4 separate regions of the Homo sapiens genome follow, and all the other regions are linked to region 1. Evidence: fine-mapped expression QTL. A gene starts in region 1. Each other region holds a variant in brackets. All regions are shown on one strand. Distances are between the middles of the regions. Region 1 holds the start of RBM44 (RNA binding motif protein 44). Region 2 overlaps LRRFIP1 (LRR binding FLII interacting protein 1). Region 3 overlaps LRRFIP1 (LRR binding FLII interacting protein 1). Region 4 overlaps LRRFIP1 (LRR binding FLII interacting protein 1).

The links.
Region 2: its variant is fine-mapped to the expression of RBM44 in whole blood (TOPMed, PIP above 0.99).
Region 3: its variant is fine-mapped to the expression of RBM44 in tibial artery (GTEx, PIP above 0.99). The same link has a PIP of 0.9 or more in cerebellum, ileum, lung and transverse colon.
Region 4: its variant is fine-mapped to the expression of RBM44 in blood mononuclear cells (TOPMed, PIP 0.97).

What each region holds. Positions count from the first base shown.
Region 1 is chr2:237,797,715-237,800,400 of GRCh38, reverse strand. It overlaps RBM44 (RNA binding motif protein 44), which reads right to left and starts at 1,622. Exons shown (of 16, transcript NM_001080504.3): 1 at 1,540-1,622.
Region 2 is chr2:237,770,572-237,773,257 of GRCh38, reverse strand. LRRFIP1 (LRR binding FLII interacting protein 1) reads right to left here. Exons shown (of 24, transcript NM_001137550.2): 21 at 1,060-1,177; 22 at 313-392. Among named protein-coding and RNA genes, the nearest start is that of RBM44, 27 kb to the left of the region's middle. The variant A/G (reference allele first, on the strand shown) is at 1,459.
Region 3 is chr2:237,777,575-237,780,260 of GRCh38, reverse strand. LRRFIP1 (LRR binding FLII interacting protein 1) reads right to left here. Exons shown (of 24, transcript NM_001137550.2): 24 at 1-839. The coding sequence ends at 729. Among named protein-coding and RNA genes, the nearest start is that of RBM44, 20 kb to the left of the region's middle. The variant A/T (reference allele first, on the strand shown) is at 1,688.
Region 4 is chr2:237,764,852-237,767,537 of GRCh38, reverse strand. The region is part of intron 19 of LRRFIP1 (LRR binding FLII interacting protein 1); the gene reads right to left. Among named protein-coding and RNA genes, the nearest start is that of RBM44, 33 kb to the left of the region's middle. The variant A/G (reference allele first, on the strand shown) is at 1,390.

The sequences.
Region 1 (2,686 bases):
CGGAAGTACTTGCAGATCATGTATGCGATAGAGGTCTATTATCTAGAATATAGAAAAAACTCTTACAACTGAACAATAAAAAGGCAAACAACCCAATATTAAGAATGAGCAAATGACTTGACAAAGAGGATATACAAATGGCCAATAAACACATGAAAATATGCTCAATTTATCAAGAGTCATGAAGGAAATGCAAATCAAAACCAAAAGATATCACTTCACACCCACTAGGATGACAATAACAATAACAGTAACAACAGTGTTGAGCAGGTCATGGAGAAATCAGAACCTTCATCCATTGCCGATGGGAATGTAACATGGTGCAGCCACTCTGGAGAAGTCTGGCACTTCCTCAGAAAGTTAAACACAAGACAACCACATGATCCAGCAATTCCACTCCTAGGTACATGCCCATTTTTATTATTTTCTTTGAGTTCTCACTTACCGAACTATTTCCTCCAGTGCACGAAACTCCAGGGAATGGTATCGCCAGAAACCACAGGACTCGCCCTTGACACCTCCCTTATCCCTGAGGTCTTGTCAATTTTAACTCCTGACTCTCACAGCTATGCAGACAATCACCTCACATCTGGCCAGAATAATCTTTCTAAAATGCTTATCGAATCAGTTACGCTCCTGCTTAAAACTCAGCAACGGACTGTCACTGTTTTCAGACAGATTAAAATCTGAATAAGTCCTGTAAAACCCTACAACGGTCCGGGCTCTGTGTTAGCCTTGGCACTTGGTGTCTTCCAGATACACCCTCCTTTCCATTTCCTTAAAAAGTCAGGCCCTGGCCGGGCGCGGTGGCTCACGCCTGTAATCCCAGCACTCTGGAAGGCTGAGGCGGGATGATCACGAGGTCAGGAGATAGAGACCGAGATCGAGACCATCCCGGCTAACACGTTGAAACCCCGTCTCTACTAAAAAAATGCAAAAAGTCAGGCCCTGTGCGTTCTCTCGCCTGCCCACCCCCTACCCCACCTTGAGTTCACGCTCAACTTCAGATCTCATCTTAAATACGCGCTTCTTAGGGAAACCGTCCGGGCACCTCACACTAGGTCAGGAGCTGGCGCCGTCCTCCAGGGCGTCCTACGCGTCGGTCAGGGGCACACACGCCTGAGTACGGAACGAACTTCACGTCCCCCTCTCGCTAGAGTCCCCGCCCCGCAGCAGAGGCTCCATCAGTCTCCACGGCAAGAAGAAGCATATGTGCGAATTTCTAGCTTTCCCCGGGGACATAACCAAGTTTGGGAGACCGGCCCCGCGACTTCGTTCGAGAACGACTTTTGCGGTGTCGGCGCCCGCTATGAGGGCGCCGGAACTCCAGTGCCGCCCAAGGAACGCGCCAGTCCCCCGCCCGCCTCGCTGGCCTCGCCTACACCGCCGTTCGGAGTCCCCGCGTGCTTCAGCGGGACGGGCCTCGCCGCCGGGACCGGCCACACGCGGGGTTCGCCAACCCCGACCGCTCAAGCCCATGGCCTCGCCCTCGCCGGCTTCGCCGCCCGACCTGCCGCCCCGCGTCTCTGTCCGTCGCACCTCGGATCCGCTAGAAAGCCGCCGCCGCTGCCGCCTCCACGGGCCAGCGCCCCGCTCTCCGCAGCCGCCTCCGAGTCAGTGGCGCCACCGGAGCAGCCGCGGCGCCTGTTGGGTAACAGTCACCAGCGGCCCGCCCACCGCCTGTCGGGCAGTATGAAAAGTGCGGCACTGTGATTGGCCCAGCCTGTGGGCGCGAAAGCGCGGGAAGGAGGCCGCCTGCTTGAATGTTGCACGACGTAGAAGAGATTGTGGGCGTCTGTCTTGGAGCGCAGAGCGGCCCCCAAGACTTTCCCGCTTTGCAGCCTGAAACCCTCGTCTGGACCGCGCAGCTCTGCAAAGTCACCATATGAAAATACTTGGAAGCGCTGCTTCTGCCAGCAGAGGCCAGACTGCCCCTCGCTTGGGTCCGGTGCAGGCCGAGTCCTCCGCCCTCAGAGGCGGGACAGGGGCCCGGCCTCCTTGCCGAACTGTTTCCCAGGCCGCGTGGTCCCTCCCGGGGTTTGGCTTGTCCTCTGCCCATCTTCTAGAAATACCGTTAGCAGGGTCGGGCCGCGACTAGGGTGAGGCCAGTGAGGCATTTGTCATGAGCACAGGATTTCAGAGGCTGCCAAAATAGCAATCAAGATAAATAATATTTTAATGCAGTCTCTAAAAAAAGTCAAAAGTAATGAAAAAATTCAGTCCTATTTTTTCCTTTCGCCTCAGACTCTTAAAATGGCTCCACAGGGTACATTGTTACTGGTCCTGTCTTTATTTAAAATTTGAATATTCTGGGCTGGGCGCGGTGGCTCACGCCTGTAATCCCAGCAGTTTAGGAGGCCAAGGCAGGTGGATCACCTGAGGTCAGGAGTTCGAAACCAGCCTGGCCAACATGGCGAAACCTCGTCTCTACTAAAAACACAAAAAATAGCCGGGCAGGTGTGGTCGTGGACGCCTGTGATCCCAGCTACTCGGGAGGCTGAGGCAGGAGAGTCGCTTGGATCCAGGAGGCGGAGGTTGCAGTGAGCTGAGATCACCCTGTTGCACTCCAGCCTGGATGATGACAGAGCAAGACTCCGTCTCAAAATAAATAAATTAAATTAAATTAAATTTGAATATTTTATTATGGATTTTTTGCATTAATTTCGATTTTTTAAAAGATTGCATT
Region 2 (2,686 bases), 27 kb after region 1:
CCAATTAACTAAATTAATTTTAAAGAACAAAATTTTAAAACACTCCCAAGCCACATTAGCTATTTTCTACAACTAACTGTTGTTGATAAAGGATTAGTATCTACTGTAACAACTTAAATTCTAAGAATTCTTTCCTTCCTGCTTGCTCTGTAAGAAACGGATGGAAAGACTTGCTGTCTTAACTTATCCCTCTTAGGACATTTCTTGGTTCTAAAAATCTCGGCTTTTTCTGGTCCTCAGCCTTTCAGGGCTATTTCTAGCAAGTAAAACTCCAGTCAATCATCAGTTCTGCCCGTTGTTGCTTACACGTACATTTTGTTCTAATGCAGTTATCTCTTGCTCAGATTTTGCAAGTTTAAATTTGAGGTCGCTGATCTGTCTGTTGGCATCCCCTAAAGGTTGAAAGAGAAGGAAAATCTGTTAAGCTCTTGGGCTTTTCAAATATTAAAACAATAGTTACTGGGAACCAAGCCCTTACTTTGTAATCATCTCACAAATCTGTTAGTTCTGGCCCTGCCTCCACAACCTCCCAGAGCTGAGAGTAGGAGAAGGCACTCTCTCCCCATGAACCCAGGGAAAGTGCCTTCCGCCCCTGTGCTTGGGGCAGGAAACCTCAGGCAAGAGAGTGCCTATGAGTGAAGAAGACAAAGAGATGGTAGGGGGTAGGGAAAAGGGCGGAGAGAGACTGGGCATAATTTTATCTCCCTTAAGACTGTTTCTAGTTTATTAGCATGAAAAAAGCCTTTCATTTTTTTTTTTTCATACAATCAACAGATCGAAAGATTGCTGTATCCAGCAAAGTAAATGTGGTTTCCATCGGCACAACATGTGGTGGTATCTTGGTGCACGTTTTTGGGTACCTGTTCTATTTCATAGGCTCAGAGAGAAACACCATTGTTCTGTCTACCTACCCCTCCTTGTGCTTTTATTTTTAAGGGCTTTTGTGGGGATGTGAGGGAATGAGGGCATTCTTTGCCGTGACAGTTTTCTCTGCCAGCACAAGTATACTAAAACAGCACATGTGAAAGCATTTACTTCTACACAAGAATTGACATTTACTTTGTAGGTCCATTACATGCATGTCTGTCCCGTTTTCCAAGACATCATCTTCAGATCGAAGATTGTCTAGTTTGCCAATCTTCTGTCTCTCCTCCAGCTGCCCTTTGAGTTTCTTAATCTGAAAACACCCGCCAGTAAAATCTGTTAATTTCTCTACTCTGAATGAGACCGAAAAGCTGAAGTTAGAGCCCATCAGAAAGGAAGCAGCATGTCAAATGACAGAAGGCACTTTGTGTCCATCAGTACTCTTCTCAGAAACACAATTCAATGTACAATGAATGAAAAATGAATTACACTGTAACTCTGAGAGAAAAGTCATTTCTAAAGTGAAATTCTTCTAGGACTCAGGAGGAGACTGTACATGAAATACCTGCAATGTTTAAGACTCAGTAAGTCACC[A/G]TGCTATTCACTTTCTCTTTATTTACTAAGAAACCAGAAAGGGCCACTTGGAGCCTTCTGGGCTCCAATATATTGTAATTAAGTCCCCCAAAAGTCGAGTGCTTTCTCAGCGTCCAGGCCAGCTGCAGGTGTGTTCAGAGGCGGTTTGCCAGCTTTCAGGGAGTTGGTCTCTAGCTAGCTTTCCCCTCTCTAAGCAAGACAGAAACATGTCCAGTTGTCCCTTGGTATCTGGGCGGGGGGGGGGGGGGATTGGTTCCAGGACCCCTCAGACACCAAATCTGTGGATGCTCAAGTCCCTGATATAAAATGGTGCAGTATTTGCAGAAACCTACCTGCATTCTCCGGTACACTTTAAATCACCTCTAGATTCCTTTTAATACCCAACGCCTACAACTCACTTCATTTGTGTGGATTCAGTGCAGGACTCCGTGCAGGGCAAATTCAAGCTATGCTTTTTGGAACTTTGCGGAATTTATGGGTTTTTTTTTTTTTTTTTTGGAATATTTCAATCCATGTTGGTTGAATCCACGGATATGGAACCCATGGATATGGAGGGCTGACCGTATAGTTGGAATTGCAGTTAACAGTCAATGACTGCAGAACTTTCTGGCATCTAGTTCGTGGGGTCTCCGGGGGCTTTTCATGTTTAACTTCCAATCTGTGAAGAATTGTTGCAGGTGATCACCTGCCTTCCTACCCCACACACCAAGCACAGGAGACCCCTGATTAACAACAAACCAAAAGTGCATGCTGCTTTAAGGAAGTAAGGATAGAACTCAGGAATGCAGTTTCAAAAGATCACAGGAACTTCAAGAGAATCTTCCTACCATATTTAGTGCTTTCTCCAATTTTCGGAGAATCTTCAACAGAATGGTAGGAAGTAAGGCAAATACATTTGATTAGGCTTATGAGGAGAAATTAGAGGAAAGTGGTTGTAGAGTGATTTAATCACTATCCTGCATATAAAAAGATCAGATAGGATAACTGTTCAGTGTTTCTTTGTTTTTGAGATGGAGTCTTGCTCTGTCACCCAGGTTGGAGTGCAGTGGTGCGATCTCGGCTCACTGCAACCTCTGCTTCCCGGGTTCAAGCGATTCTCCTGCCTCAGCCTCCCCAGTAGCTGGGATTACGGGCGCGCACCATCACACCCGGCTAATTTTTGTATTTTTAGTAGAGACGGGGTTTCACCATGTTGGCAGACTGCTCTTGAACTCCTGACCTCAAGTGA
Region 3 (2,686 bases), 20 kb after region 1:
AGTTAACGACTTCAATTCCAAATATAAGGATTAAATAATGCAATGAAAAGCTGTCATTTTCAGTGAAGCTATTGCCTAATTACCCTGGAAAAAAGTATTCTTATGACTGAACTGATGCAAAAATCCCTTAGAAAAGCTTCATTTGTTGCCTGTAAAGAGTCTTCTTAAGGTCACTTTTACTTCTAGACTGCCCCCTTGTTTCCAGTGAAAGAGTTTTGCTTGGTAATGGCTTGTGGTTCCACAGTGTTTTGTGTATGAAAAGCGTAGACTAAGAGATACTACTGAAGTCGCTCAAATTGTAGATTCTGCCATGAAAGGAAGTCCCAACACTGTAACATTTCCCCTTAATCTTCAGCAAGACACATGAAAAAAAAAAAAAACTCAAGTCCCAACTGAATCTTTACTTTGATCATCACTTCCAGCGGCATTCAGAGGCTGCTGTGCGGTCAGACACAGAGCTCCCTCGAGGCCCCTGTGTGCTTATGAAGTACCTGCAGGTTCTGAGCGTCGGCGCCAGCCCGGGCCAGGGGTCTGCAGACAGAGGCACCTGGTGGCTGCTGGGGCTCCCTGGGGTGAGCCATGGCACGGGAGCCCCTAAGCGCCAAGCTCGCCACGGTCTTCGTCTCTCGGAAGGCAGGGGAAGAAGCAGCGCTCCCAGATAGGACAGAGAAAAGCCTATGAAACAATGCTCTCCAGTCACCAACCAGTTGCCTGATCAGAGCTGGAATTTACTGCTGGGACAAGAGTGCACTCCGATTTGCTTTCATTTTTTCCAGACGCTTCACTAAGTGGCCGTTGCTCACCTCGAGCTCTTCTGTTTTATCCAATGCAGAGCGGAGCTGGGAACGGAGGAAAGGCAGTGAGCTTTAAGGAACTTGTTTCCTCCAAACATAACAGGGTTCTGTGTTACCGAAATTCCAATCCTACTGAAAAATAAAATGATAACTTGGCCCCTGGTCCCTCATGATGCCCTTCCTCCTCTGAAACAACTGGACTCCAGAGAGGGAACACCCTTGGGGATCCTGATGGTTTTCTTTTTTTTTTCTTGAGATGGAATCTCGCTCAGTCGCCCAGGCTGGAGTGCAGTGGCGTGATCTCGGCTCACTGCAAGCTCCGCCTCACGGGTTCAAGCGATTCCCCTGCCTCAGCCTCCCGGGACTACAGGTGTGCGCCACCACCCTCAGTTAATTTTTTGTATTTTAGTAGAGACGGGGTTTTGCCATGTTGGCCAGGATGGTCTCGATCTCCTGACCTCGTGATCTGTCCGCCTTGGCCTCCCAAAGTGCTGGGATTACAGGCATGAGCCACCACGCTCGGCCTCTTTTTTTGTTTGTTTTTTTTTTTGAGACAAAGTCTCGCTCTGTCACCCAGGCCAGAGTATAACGGTGTGATCTTGGCTCACTGCAACCTCCGCCTTCTGGGTTCAAACAATTCTCTTGTCTCAGCCTCCTGAGTAGCTGAGACTACAGGTGCACACCACCACACCTGGCTAATTTTTTGTATTTTATTAGAGATGGGGTTTCACCATGTTGGTCAGGCTGGTCTTGAACTCCTGACCTCAGGTGATCTACCCACCTCGGCCTCCCAAAGTGCTGGGATTACAGGCGTGAGCCACACGCCCAGTGGGGATCCTGATGGTTTCACAAAAGGTAAGTGAGGCATGAGGTAAACAAACACAAACAACAAG[A/T]GCTGAGCCTGGACTGCATGGCGAAGGTGGTCCCCACAGCCCTGGCAGCCAGAGTCCAAGGCAGGAATGCCTGAGGCCAAGACGGCCACACCTGGGAGCCAGGGCCATGGAGCCTGAGAGTCAGGCAGAAGACGAGCTGCAGAAGCCACATTAGCAGGGCATCATCTGGACCCACAGGCAGCAGGGCAGAGTGGGGTGCCCTAAGCTGGGAGAACGTGGTTTTGGAGGGGTGACAAGAACAGGGTCTATGGCTCTGCTTTCGACCCAAAACACTCAAGGAAGCTTGTTTGGGTCCTGGGACAGAAGTCCCGACCCCACCTCACTAGCAGAGGCAGAAGCAAGCCCTTTTTGCAGGAAGTTTCCACAAGTTAAGCCTGGAGTTATTCCTACAAATTAAAATCAAGCATAAGCTCACAAAACACTAAGGTGACAAACCATTTGAGTGAGAGTCAACAGAAGCAATAAATGACAGAATTAGACCCCCAAAGACTGAGCATGTTTCAGTTGTCAGATACAGAAAACCAAACAGCTGTGTATGAAATATTTAAAGAATAAGAATACAATTTAAAAAGAGGACATACATGAACATGCAGCAAGAAACTATCAACAATGAAGACACTTTTTAAAAAAAATGGTGAACTGGAAAATCTTTGCAAAAACTTTAGGCATTATCCAATAGAGAGAGGTAAGGAGATAGAAAACATGAAAGAGAGATGGTTAAAAAATGTGGAGACAATGAGAATCTCTAACATCCTCTGATTAGAGTTCCAGAGGGGAAAGTGGAGAGACTAAAAAAGAGGAATTATTTAAGGAGTTAATGGTTGAATATTTTCCAAAATCAATTTTTAAAAAGACTTCACAGATCCAAGAAACACTATATATCTCAAGCAGAAAGATTCCAATAAACTACATCTAACAGTAAAACTGTAGAAAATCAAAGACAAACAGAACCTGAAAGAAACTAGAGAAGAAAAAAAAAGGTCCCTACAAAGGACCGAC
Region 4 (2,686 bases), 33 kb after region 1:
TATAAGTAAAAATCCATCTTCCTCTATATTTTTGACATACACCCATAATTATACTTAATTATACTTTTGAAGGAAGATTTACATTTATATACGGGAGCTATGTTCTGGTTTGGGACTGAAAAATATCCAAGCTTTTTGATTTCAGGTGTCAGTAACCAATGTTTTTCTCTATTCTGTATGATAGTGAAACCCCAGTGGTCTAGGTTCGTCTGGGGATATGGCTGGCAGGCAACCTTTCAATTCTTTTCTGAGTTTGAATCTTTTGACACTATAATCTTTCTAAATTGCTCTATATATTTCTATACCTTCTTATATGGAGTATAGCTAAGTCAACTTTCTTTTTCTTTTCTTTCTTTTTTTTTGAGACAGGGTTTCACTCCATCACCCAGGCTGGAATGCAGTGGTGTGAGCACAATTCACTGCAGCCTCGACCTCCCAGGCTCAGGTGTTTCTGCCTCCTAAGTAGCTGGGACTACATGGGACTACATGCACATGCCACCATGCCTGGCTAATTGTTTGTATATTTTTTTTGTAGAGATGGGCTTTCATCATGTTGCCCAGGCTGGGCTTGAACTCCTGGGCTTAAGTGATCTGCCTGCCTCGGCCTCCCACGTGCTGGGATTATAGGCATGAGCCAATGTGCCCGGCCTCAACCATTTCTTGATAAGTTAAGGGCCTTCACAGTAATATCAATTACTGTGCTTGGCTATAAAGTCATTACACTGGAGAGCATATAACTGATGCTCAGAATGAAGGCTCTGAAATCATCGAGAAATGGTTTGGCTGCTCAGAACTCTTTCTTTTTCCTTCTTTCTTGCTCATGGATTTTCAGCTGTCCATTCCCTACTGGAGGGCTGGGTCCAACTGCTTGTTCACTGGCACAGTGCCTTCCATGTACAAAGTGATCAAACCTGTCTATTAATTAAGCAAATGAGTGGTGAATCACTGAGACGGCTGGATGGCTGAGCTGAGGGATGTGATGTGTGCCCAACGTCCTGCAGGGTGCTGGTGAATAACATGAGAAAGAACTTAAAATGGCTTGATGATCTCACCATTTAGTGACCTTGGTTGTCACACTGCTTTCCAAGAGCCCTTTAAAGGTAGGAATGAGAGCTGTTTCCAGTATGCATTCCAATAGGAATGCAGCTTTGCTAAAGTTAGAGACATAAACTAAAACCCTGTGAAGTCCTATAGAGCCCTTGGACTTATTTCCTAGCAAGCATTTATCATCCCCACCATCCTCTACTTCAGGACACTTGAGCAGAAACAGTCAAGGTTTTTGCCGTTTTCATCCTGCTCTTCAAAACACTGTAAGTAGTGGCGCAGGTAAGCACAGCCACAGGTGAAGACCGTTTTCAGCTGAGGCTGCACATCAGAACCACAGATCAC[A/G]GGGGATGGTGCGTGACAATCGTCTCAGTTCTCCCAGTAATGCCCATGCTAGCCCCAGGCTCGATGCCAGGAGGGAAGTGCATTCCTTACTGAGGGAGGGCATCAGGCGTGGGTCTTCCACGGAACCCCAATAGGAATCAGCAACCCCCAAGCAGATATTACTCAAAGGTGGTATTACATACAACAGTAGTCAGACTCAGACTTCAAGCAGCCCAAAGAGTGGAACCACAGGCTTGCACAATTATAAAATGTTTTTATTTCAATTACATAATAACACGTTTTCCTCAAATTTTATTGAGGTTTTGGTCTTTTTGCATTCAATTCTATCTTGTAACAGTAATATGAATCCACATAATTTCATAAAATGTCAACAACATTCATAAGGTACATTCCTTTGTGATTTTATATTTTACAATTTTAAATCTAACTTTACAATTATTTTAAAAAATTTTTTTATATAGAAAACAGATATTTTCTTCAGGCAGATCAAAACAAGAATTTTCCAGTAAGAATATACTGGGACATAACAAATGAAAATATTTATACCAAAATACCAAAAGTGATTCAGCTCTTTAAAATATCCTACTATAGTCTAATTAGTAGCTTGTACAAGAACAAGTAACCATTTTTTACTGCTCTTTTGAATGATGATTAGAAATTCAAACAAAGTATTTTAAGGTTCAAAAACTTTTTTTTTTTTTTTTTTTTTTTTTAGAGACAGTGTCTCACTCTGTCTCCCAGGCTAGAGTACAGTGTGCAATCATAGCTCACTGCAGCCTTGAACTCCTGGCCTCAAGCAATCCTCCCACCTTGGCTTCCCAATGTGCTAGGTTTACAGGCGTGAAAACATTGTGTTGTGTGTGTGTGTGTTTTTTTTTTTTTTTTTAGACAGAGTTTCGCTCTTGTTGTCCAGGCTGGAGTACAATGGCTTGATCTTGGCTCACTGCAATCTCTGCCTCGCAGGTTCAAGCGATTCTCCTGCCTCAGCCTCTGGAGTGGCTGGGATTACAGGCGCCCACCATCACGCCCGGCCAATTTTTTGTATTTTTAGTAGAGACAGGGTTTCACCATGTTGGCCAGGCTGGCCTCGAACTCTTGACCTCAGGTGATCCACCTGCCTTGGCCTCCCAATGTACTGAGATTACAGGCATGAGCCACCACGCCCGGCCAAAAACATTTAAAAAATGACTGTCCCTGCTCAAATACTGCAGTAGGAAATGTAATTTGACATATATCACTTCCAGAAAAAAACTTTAAATCTTTCTATAAAATGAATTTGATACATCATCAGCATGAA